2 separate regions of the Homo sapiens genome follow, and region 2 is linked to region 1. The links come from fine-mapping of genetic effects on gene expression. A gene starts in region 1. The other region holds a variant in brackets. All regions are shown on one strand. Distances are from middle to middle.

The links. PIP is the estimated chance that this variant, and not a neighbour inherited with it, causes the effect. A credible set is the group of variants that fine-mapping cannot tell apart.
Region 2: its variant is the best candidate, but not a certain one, in a credible set for the expression of EPHA7 in esophagus muscle (GTEx, PIP 0.51).

Annotation. Positions count from the first base shown.
Region 1 is chr6:93,417,200-93,422,577 of GRCh38, reverse strand. It overlaps EPHA7 (EPH receptor A7), which reads left to right and starts at 3,019. Exons shown (of 17, transcript NM_004440.4): 1 at 3,019-3,333. The coding sequence starts at 3,237. RefSeq lists a silencer at 2,772-2,971.
Region 2 is chr6:93,203,763-93,209,151 of GRCh38, reverse strand. No RefSeq gene overlaps it. Among named protein-coding and RNA genes, the nearest start is that of EPHA7, 210 kb to the left of the region's middle. The variant C/G (reference allele first, on the strand shown) is at 3,104.

The DNA.
Region 1 (5,378 bases):
ATTGTAACAAGTTAAAACAAAATAGCAGGTGTACCCTCATTTAGAATGTGTCTTGAATTTGGACATTTCCCTACATGTACAGTCATGTGATTATTGGTAATTATACAAATAAATAATACAAAATGCATTAAAATTGGGTATATCTCCTTAGTATCTGAAGAGAGGCGTTTTTCATCTTTCCACTATACATTTATTATAGATGTTGCAACAGAGGGGATATAAAATTGAAATATTAAGGTCTTAGTCTCTGTTTCCATTTACTTAAAATTCACTAAATATATGTGGACGACGCTATCAACTTAGTTGTACAATGAATGCATAAAAATGTAAAACTAGTTTTCAGAATTATTGCTTTGGCGCACAGGTGTTGGTCTCATACACTATTTGGTATTGCTCAGGAAGACAAGTTCCTTTTGAATTCACTTTATATACAAACACATCGCATTATTAAAAATAATTGATTAGAAATAATATGCTTAAATCATAAAATGAAGCTAAAATAAATTGTAATGGTGTGAGGAAGTTCACCATTATGTTATTTTAAAATGAGAAAGTTTTGTATACTGATAATTTTTATGTCAGTGGCTTCATGTACAAATAGGTCTATATGCTTTATCATTAGTCAAATACAGTCGAGTGTAAATTTATATATTAATCATATACTGTATGCTGAACACTGTCTTCTTGACTGTCATTTATTTTTATTTAAATGCTCCGAATTCTTTGTCAATATATCTAGATACTACAAAAGAAAGAAGAGAAGTTTGAAAAACCTAAAAATCAGTATCACTGTGCAGCTATGCAGGGAGAACTGTCAGCAGCCTGGCACATGTGCATTTAATGTGAAGCTTCTTGTCTCTAAAAATAAGAGTAAAGTTACACATGCCCCTGTGTCTGACAGAGAGAAGGGACACAAAAAGAGGACTCACTATACCACCTACACTCATCAGAGGAGTGAAGGATGTTACTTCTTTGGTTTCCTGGTTTTAATGGAAAAGTATTTGTATTCACATCATTGAGTATTAGTCATTCAATAGATGAAAGGAATATTTTAAACTTTAAAGGCCACCTTGGTGTCATTTTAAGAAGTGGGGATGAGACCCTGGGGAAAGTGTTGAAATCCTGGAGAATTCGTTTTAACTATTAGAAGTGGTTTAATATTTGTAAGTTTGTAGTTCTGTGAGTTCTAAAGACTAAGTGCAGGGATTTATGTTTTTAACTCTTATGTTTTAGTTTACAAGTTTCATCCTTAAATCATCTATTTGTGTAAATAAAGCTTCATCTCCTCTATAACAAGTGTGTTCTCCCCATATTTTTTTTTGTCTCTTTCTAAGGTTAATCTATTACGCATTTACATTTTCTATGCATCCTTTAAGGGACACTGAAGATGCTTTTTGATACACTTTCTAAAATATTAAATAGGCATAATGGCTAGGAATATGTAACATTGAAGAAATGTTTCAGAAACTACAGAATCAAAGAGGTTTAAAGAATAAATTTCATATCTCTCTTCCATGTTATTTTATTAGGCAAATAAAAACTACAGGAGACAATTTAACATAAAATACAAATAAATATCTGGGGGTTGTCATCTTAGAGAACTCCCTACTATAAAAAGCAGAAACAACTCAATTTACTTTATATTTCCAGATAGAAAGGTTGGAAAAAGTTTGGAGCCTTATGTGAGATCAAACTTTGGATCTATCGGAAATAAAAGGAAATCATAAATGACTGAGAAATATTTTTAAAGGAAGAAATTATAGGACAAAAAAAGAAATTCATCTTAAACATGTGATCAAGTTACTCTGTGTGACCTTTGAAATTGAAGATTTGGCAATTAAAATTTTAAAGTTCTTCCTCTTATTACCTACCTCTTGAATACAAAGTGTCCGAAACTGCCTAATGGAAAACAGATTTCTCTACGCAGCCTTCCTTGCCGTTCGGGTTGAATGAATTCAACTGGAGATATTGGTTATGACTTTTTTTATTCTTAGTTTCTCTTTGAAAGATAAGCATTGAATAATTCCTGAAAATGGTAAATACTTGCGAAGAGAAAGGTCTTGCTTTATGAATTTAATACGTAGTGGCATTCTTTAAAATTCAGTGTAATTTATGCAGCGAAATGGAAAACTATCAAAGTGGAGGCAATCCAAGGAAAACCTTAGAAAATGATAAACGCGTAAAAAAACGATACGCAACCATCAGAAGGTTCTCTCCTAATGTCTCACTTCGCTCAACAAACTATGGTGAAAAGACAGGGCGGAGGAGAAGGGGCGCTTAAAACAAAAGACTTCCTTTCCCACTCCCTTTTCCTCTGTTTCTTTTGCCAGAGCTTGTTGCAAACTCTTGGAAACATTGTTTAAACATAATACACTTGGTTACTTTATTCTTTCAGGGATTGTGGTGGGTGGTACCTAAAACTGACGGCTCTTGGAGTAACAGAAAAAGAGAAGTAGAAACTTTTCAAAAAGGCAAAAAACAAAGTTACCCAGCCCGCGGAGGTTCTAACAACAAAAAAGTAAAACACACTTTACTTAAAGGCACAGCTCATTTCACTGTCCGGGCTCCGTGCTTGGTAGCTGAGAGAAGGCTTGCTTCGCCTCTGGTTTCTAAAAGATCGCGCGGAGTACAGCTATAGAAAAGAGTGTAAGTTGGGAGCGTTATTCTCGGATTTATTCTGCTACGCGAAAGCTGCGGTTGCTAAAAGCAGAGCGTCCAAAGCAGCACACACCTCGGCTACCATCCTCGTTCTCCTCTGAACATCCAGCGCGAGCTCAGAACCTGGAGGGAATCCTGGACCAGCAACCTGACTCCGCTCGGCACCGATTGGCTCCTGCCTCGGACCCCGCCCCCGTGGCCGGGGCGGCCATTTCGCCGGGACCCGCCCCTTGGCCCTGGGAATCGCCTCCTGGCAGGCCGGCTGTGCCTGCCACTCAGCCCGAGTGGCGGAGGCTCTCAGCTCGGAGCCCCGCCCCCTCCCCCCCTAATTGATATTATTGGAGTGTGGAGCAAGCGGCCGGTCTGCAGTCGGAGACTTGCAGGCAGCAAACACGGTGCGAGCGAACAGGAGTGGGGGGGAAATTAAAAAAAGCTAAACGTGGAGCAGCCGATCGGGGACCGAGAAGGGGAATCGATGCAAGGAGCACAATAAAACAAAAGCTACTTCGGAACAAACAGCATTTAAAAATCCACGACTCAAGATAACTGAAACCTAAAATAAAACCTGCTCATGCACCATGGTTTTTCAAACTCGGTACCCTTCATGGATTATTTTATGCTACATCTGGCTGCTCCGCTTTGCACACACAGGGGAGGCGCAGGCTGCGAAGGAAGGTAAGGTGATGGGAAAGCAAAGTTTGTTCTGACTTATTTATTTAGATGTCTACCTGCACAAGCCAGCTCGTCCGCGGCGCTGCCGGCCGCGCCTCCGGCGCCGGGCGACCCTCCCCCGCCGGCTCCCCGCCCCCTCACCGCTGAGGCCGCTCCTGGCGGACCAGCGAGCGCGAACCAGGGCTGTTCCGAGCCGCCTACAGCCCTGTGCCCGGAGCCGTCCATCCGACGGGTGCGGGATTTCTGGCGCGGGCAGTCTGGAGGGCGTGAGCAGCAACGGGGGTGGGGTGGGGTTGGAGGAACTGCCGGCGAGCTTATTTCTTAGTACCTCAGGCGGGTCACATCTCTCTCTAGCTCGGTCTTCCTTGTCTCCTTATTCGCCTTCTGTGGGAGCTGCGGCCAGAGTTGGGTTGGAGACTGGGAAATGCAGCCCCTACCGTCTCCGCCAGCCCGCCGGCGAGTGGCGGGAGCCCGGAGCCTTCCCAGAGGGACCGAGACTTCGATGAGCTCGGAAAGCTCGGGTTACTAATGAAGTGCTCACTGCGTCGGAGGCGGCGGCGCGGTCCTGCGGTTGGCGCTCGGCCGCCAGCACGGAACAATAACGCCGCGGAGGTGAAGCGCGGCGTGCGGCGCGCGACCCGAGGGCCGGGGATGTCTCCATTCAGCGCGCGCTGCGCGTCGGGCCCAGCGGTCATGGGGGCAGCGGCAGCCCAGCGGGCTTGGTCGGGCCGTGGAGGCAGGGGGCGGGCTGGAGCTGTGCAATTTGTAAGGATGCCGCCTGGGCGACTCAAAGTCCCCAATTATTTGCCCCATAGTGCAGCAATTGAGGAATCCGAGTGCCCAATCCTTGCCAAAGACCTGAACCCTGAGGGTTGGTTCTGGTAGGAGAAGGCAGGTTTTATTTGGCAAGCTGTTACAGATACGCCTGTATATGGTTATGTTTTCCTTCTTTGAACCTTTGACAGAAGGTAAAATACCTTTCGGTGCCTGTAGTTGGAGCTGGGGAAAAATAAACCCTGTCAATGGAAGTCTCTTGCTTTTGAGCAGTGTCACAATCCCATCCCCAACCCCCCTCATCCCGTCGCCCCCCTGGTCTTTCAGGCTGTGTATCTAAGTTTCATTTTTCGATCTGTTAAAAGCAGAAGAGAAATAATTACTTATTCCTGATGTGTAGAGGGAGAGGAATCTGTTATGAAATTTAGGTCATGGTGGTTATCGGGCGGGGTGTTGAGGGGACTTACATATAGGTCCTTGATTCATCTATTTCTGAAAACTTAGTGCACCTTTTCTTTATTCTCATCGTGCACTCCTCTTAGTTCGCTCAAGCCCCCCTCAAACCCGGCGCCAAATTCTAGTCCTTCTTTCAGCCTGACCTTCTGACCCCACTTTCCACATCTGCAACCTGTATAGATGCTGAACCCATTCAGAGAACCCCGTGCCTCCAAGCTGGCGGTTACGCGTTTGCAGAAGGACGGACATCTGCTAGAAACGCACGCTCATCCCCTCCAAAACCACATTTCTACTCCCCTGACGTTAGCGATCAGAAACCTTCAGCCCTGGCATACTGTGATTCCTCTGGAATAGCGGACCAGAGGAAAAGTTTGCACCGCCGCGGCGAAACCCCGCGCGCGAACACACGCAGACTCGGGCTGGAGTTTGGGCTATAAATAACTGCATCACTAGGGGGAGAGGTTCCTGCAGCCAGAATGTCTAGTTCTCTTTGCTCTTCTGGGTGCAAGCTACGTGAAGAGGATTCTGATTCTAAGAGCCTGAATTCTTTAGATGCAGAAGTGTGATGTATAAAAGGCGCGGGGGTGATGGGAGGGAGGGTGGTGATCTGTGGCTGGCGGGCGGCGAGTGCGCCCGGCTTCTAGGCGGCGACGCCTCTAGGGCGCAGCGGCGACCAAGAGCTGGCGTTCTAGGAGTTCACAAGCCCCGAGGCGGCCCGCAGTACCCAAGGGCTAGCGCTGGGAACCGCTTGAAGCAGGTGCCGGGCCTCCTGGGGCATTTGGGGGTGGCTAGAGGAAGATAAGAAACCCCCTTCCCTC
Region 2 (5,389 bases), 210 kb after region 1:
AGCTGCCACATCTCTGAAGCAATAATTCCTTTCTTCTGAGAAAATACAAAACTTTGTATAGGTTACCCACTGTTGTGTCACAAACAACCCTAAACTTTAGTGGCCTAAAAGAACAACTCATTTTTCTGTCTCATGGTTCATGGATTGACTTAGCAGTTCTTATTCAGAGTCCGTCATGTTGCAGACAGATGATGGTTGAGGCTAGAGTCATATGAAGGCTCAACTGAGTTGAATATCTAAGATGGCTCATTCATAAGGCTGGCAGTGTGGGCAGGCTGCTGGCTGAGAGCTTTTTTAGGACTGTTGAGTGAAACACATACATGTAAACTTTGCATATGTCTTTGGGCTTTAGACAACATGGCAATATGTCCCCAGAGCAAGCATTCTAAGAGGCTCAAAATAACTAAAAAACTTCTTATGATGTAGCCTCCAAGGTCCCAAAAGTCATTTTCACTATACTTTGTTAGTCAAGTAAGTTACCGGGAAAGTCCCTATTCACAGGGAAGGGCATTAGGCTCCACCTCTTGATATGAGACTCAGCATGTGTATAGGGACCAAGACTATCTACCAGTTGGCCTGTGGCTATTACAATTCATATCTCTCCCATATACAAAATACGCTCATCTCCATTTCAAGACACACATGTTCTCATTCCAGTACAATATTAGCTCAAAGTCCAGGAGCTCATCATCTAAATCAGGTCCTGGTATGATAAAGGTTTCTCAAGTGTAGTTACTTTCAGCGAAAGCTGTGAACTAAGGAGACAAGTTAGCTGGTTTCCTCACACCCACCACACAATGTGGCTGCAAGAATAGGACAAATGCAATAAACTCTTCAGTGAAAAAAGTTGGAGAGTATGGAATGGGAATAACGTAGCCGTCACTAGTCTAAAGCATTTCTGAATTCTAGCTAGGCATATTATGTCTTTTTTTGTTTGTTTGTTTGTTTTTAATCAGGCCCTGATTCTGTTCCATGGGAGTGATATGCTGTTTTAGTTTCTGCTCTCTGGACTTATGGTCTGTGTTTGTGACTTTCTCAGCCTACTTCCTATTATAGACTTTTTTTTCCTACTTGAATTGTCTCTTTAACTTTTATTTTTAGTAAAGAGAAACAAGTACAGGTTTGTTACATAGGTATACTTGTGTCATGGGGGTTTGTTGTACAGACTATTTCATCACCCAGGTATTAAGCCTGGTACCCATTAGTTATTTTTCCTGATCCTGTCCCTCCTCCTACCTTCCACCCTCTGAAAGGCCCGGGTGTGTGATGTTCCCCTCTCTGTGTCTATGTGTTCTCATCATTTAGCTCCCACTTGTAAGTGAGAACATCAACTGTTTCTTTTTCAATCCAAGATAGCGAGTAAAATTTCCTTGCAAACTTTATGTTTCTGATCAATCACATTAGTGTTCACTCTAATAAACATGAGTGGGATCTGCTGATCTCTTAGATACAAGTTCCTCTTTACCCTGACAGTCAAGGTGCTACAGGACAACACTCTTAGAATTTTTAAAAGTCCTTTTGTCTAGCAGAGTGTTCTAAAAAGCATGTCCTTTGTCTGCATTTGAATATCCAGTTTACCCAGCGCTATTTATTGAAGGAAGATACTGTCCTTTCCCTGATGTGTTCTTGGTGACTTTGCCAAAAATGAGTTGACCATAAATGTGTGGAATTATTTCTGGCTTCTCTATTTTTCTCCATTGGTCAGTGTCAGTTTTTATGCCAGTATCATGCTGGGTTTATTTATTTATTTCTAGATGGGTCTCACTATATTGCTCAGGCTGGTTGCAACCTCCTGAGCTCCTGCTTCAGCCTCTCAAGTATCTAGGACTATAGGCACATGCCACCACACCTAGCTACCATGCTGTTTTTGTTACTACAGCTTTGTAGCATAATTTGAAGTCAGGTAATGTGATGCCTCCAGCTTTGTTCTTTTTGCTCAGGATTTATTTGTCTATTCTGGGTCGTTTGTGGTTCCATACAAATTTTAGGGGCTTTTTTCTATTTCTGTGAATAATGTCATTGATATTTTGATAGGGATTTCATTGAATCTGTAGATAGCTTTGGATAGTAGGGACATTTTAATAATATTGATTCTTCTAATCCACAAACAAAATATCTTTCCTTTTTTGTGAGTTCTCTTCGATTTCTTTCATCAATGTCTTACAGTTTTCATTGTAGAGGTTTTTCACTTCTTTGGATAAGTTTATTCCTTAACCAAAGAGTTTTGTTTTATTATTAGCTATTGTAAATGGGATTACATTCTTGGTTTCTTTTTCAGATTGTTCACTATCGGCATACAGAAATACTACTAATTTTTTTGTATGTGGATTTTGTATCCTGCAGTTTTACTGACTTTATCTGTTAATAGTTTTTTGGTGGCATCTTAGGTTTCTATAAATATAAGATCATATAACCTGCAAGCAAAAATAAATTGTTTTCTTTTTTTCCAATTTGGATGCATTGTATTTCTTTCTTTTGTCTAATTGTTCTGGCTAGGACTTCTAGTAATATGTTGAATAGAAATGGTAAAAGTGGGTATATTTGTCTTGTTCCAGATCTTAGAAGGAAGGCTTTCAGTTTTTCCCTGTTTAGTATGATACTATCCATGGGTTTGTTATATATGGCCATTCCATTACTGTGTTAAGGTATGTTCCTTTTATATACAGTTTGTTGAGAATTTTTATCATGAAGGAATGTTGAATTTTGTCAAATTCTTTTTTTAACTACTGAAATAATCATATGGTTTTTGTCCTTTATTCTGCTGATGTGATGTATCACATTTATTGATTTACATATATTGAACCATCCTTGCATCCACAGGATGAATTCCACTTGGTCATAGTGAATGATCTTTGAATGTGTTGTTGAATATGGTTTGCTAATATTTTGTTGAGGTTTTTTGCATCTATATTCATCAGAGAGATTGGCCTGCAGTTTTCTTTTTCTATTGTGTCTTTGTCTGGTTTTGGTATCAGTGTAATACTGGCCATACAGAATGAGTTTAATAGTGTTCCCTTCTTAATTTTTTTGGAATAGTTTGAGTATCACTGGTATTACTTCTCCCTTAAATGTTTGGCAGAATTCAGCAGTTAAGCCATTAGAT[C/G]CTGGGCTTTTCTTTGATGGAAGACTTTTCACTACTGCTATCTTGTTTCTTATTATTGATCTAGTCAAGTTTTATGTGTCTTCGTGGTTCAATCTTAATAGGCTATATGTGTCTAGAAATTTATTTATACACCAAAATCAAATCAAAATGGAGTAAAGATTTAAATGTAAGACCTGCAAGTATGAAACAACTAGATGTAAACATTGGAAAATTTCTCCAGGACATTAGTGGTCAGAGAAAAGAATCCTTGAGTAAGACCTCAAAGGTAGAGGCCAAAGCAAAAATGGACAAATGGGATTATATCAAGCTAAAATCATCTGCACAGCAAAGGGTACAATTAACAAAATGCAGAGGCAATCTACAGAATGAAATAAATTATTTTCAAATTATTCAATTGACAAGGGATTAACAACCAGGGCACACAAGGAACTCAAACAACTCAACAGCAGAAAAAACAAATTATCCAGTTAGGAAATGAGCAAAAGATCTGAATAGATATTTCTCAAAAGAAGATATATAAATTGCCATCACGTATATGAAAAAATGCTTGACATCACTAATCATGAGGGAAATGCAAATCAAAACCACAATGAGATATCATCTTATCCCAGTTAGAATGTGACTGTTATTAAAAAGACAGAAAAGTAATAGATGCTGGTGAGGATGCAGAGAAATGCTAACTGTTATACACTGTTGGTGGGAATACAAATTAATACTGCCACTATGGAAAACAGTATGAAGATTTCTCAAAAAAAAAACCAAACTAAAAATAGAACTACCATATGATCTAGTAATCTATTACTGGATATATATCCAAAGGAAAAGGAATCGATATATTAAAGGGATACCTACATTCCTGTGTTTATTGCAGCACTATTCACAATAGCAAAAATCTGGAATCAACCTATATGAACATCAATAGATGAACAAATTTAAAAAGTGGTACATATACACAATGGAATATTATTCAGTCATAAGTAAGAATGAAATCTTGTCATTTGCAACAACATAATGAAACTGGAGAACATTATGTCAAATGAAGTAAGCCAGGTACAGAAAGCAAATGTCATATGTTCTCACACATATGTGAAAGCTAAAAAATTGATCTCATGGAGATGGAGAGTGTAATGATGGTTACTAGAGACTGGGAAGGGTGGTGGGGAGGGGGAAATAAAGAAGGGTTGGTTAATTGGTACACAAATACAGTTAGAAGAAATAAGATCTAGTGTTTGGTGGCAAAATAGGGCAACTATAGTTAACAATAATTTATATATATAAATAAATATTTTTGTATATTTTAAAAGAACTAGAAAAGTGGGCTTAGAGTGTTCTTAGATTGTGTTAGATTGTAACACAAAGAAATAATAAATGTTTAAGGTGATGAATATCCCAATTACCCTGATTTGATCATTGAACATTGTATACTTGTATCAAAATATCACAGGTACTGCATAAATATGTACAACTATAATGTATCCATAAAAGTTAAAAATGTGGTCATTCAGGACTACTCAGAAAAAAATTTTAAAAATTGGGAAATTATATCTGCAAGATTCATGGATGTTTCATTGTTTATTTCTTAGAGGGTCTTTGAACATATTCTTAAATTTTTCTAAGCTCCAATAAAGGATTGTAGAGTTGCACCCTTGACTTTGTCTTTACCATGAGGCCATTTCTTGCTTCGAGAAATTTTCACTGGCTAGAAAGACAATCCTGGGCCTTCTATAATTCCAGTTTAAACTTCTTTCTCTCTCTTTTATCATTTGCTGCTTTAAAAAAAAAAAAAAAGTTGTTACTTTCATCATTCTGCCTAGAAATCTCCTTAGCAAAAATAATAGGTTGGCATATTCTATTTTCTATGTTCTCATAGGTAGATAACTGTTGCCCAACTTCCTTCCATTATATAACAAGAGGGCACCTCTTCTACAGTTCTGATAATGACGTCCTTCATTCTTCACAAATAGTCTTCTCAAGGCTCTTGTATCTTCTGCCTGGCTTCCAGTCTCAAAGCAATGCTAATTTGTTTCAATTTTTTGTTGCAGCGGGACCTCATTTTGAGACATAAATTCTGTTTTAGTTATGTATTTCTGGGAAAAAAATTACTTGAAATATTAGTGGCTTGTAACACCCAGTTTACTTTGCTCACAGCTTTGAAGGTCAGGAACTTGGGAATAATTTGACTGGGAGATTTGTCGCTGATTTATATGTAGTCATTCAGAGCATCTAGGCCAGAAGATGAACTTCCAAGATGAGCTCTTCACTCATATGTCTGGTGTCTCAATTTTC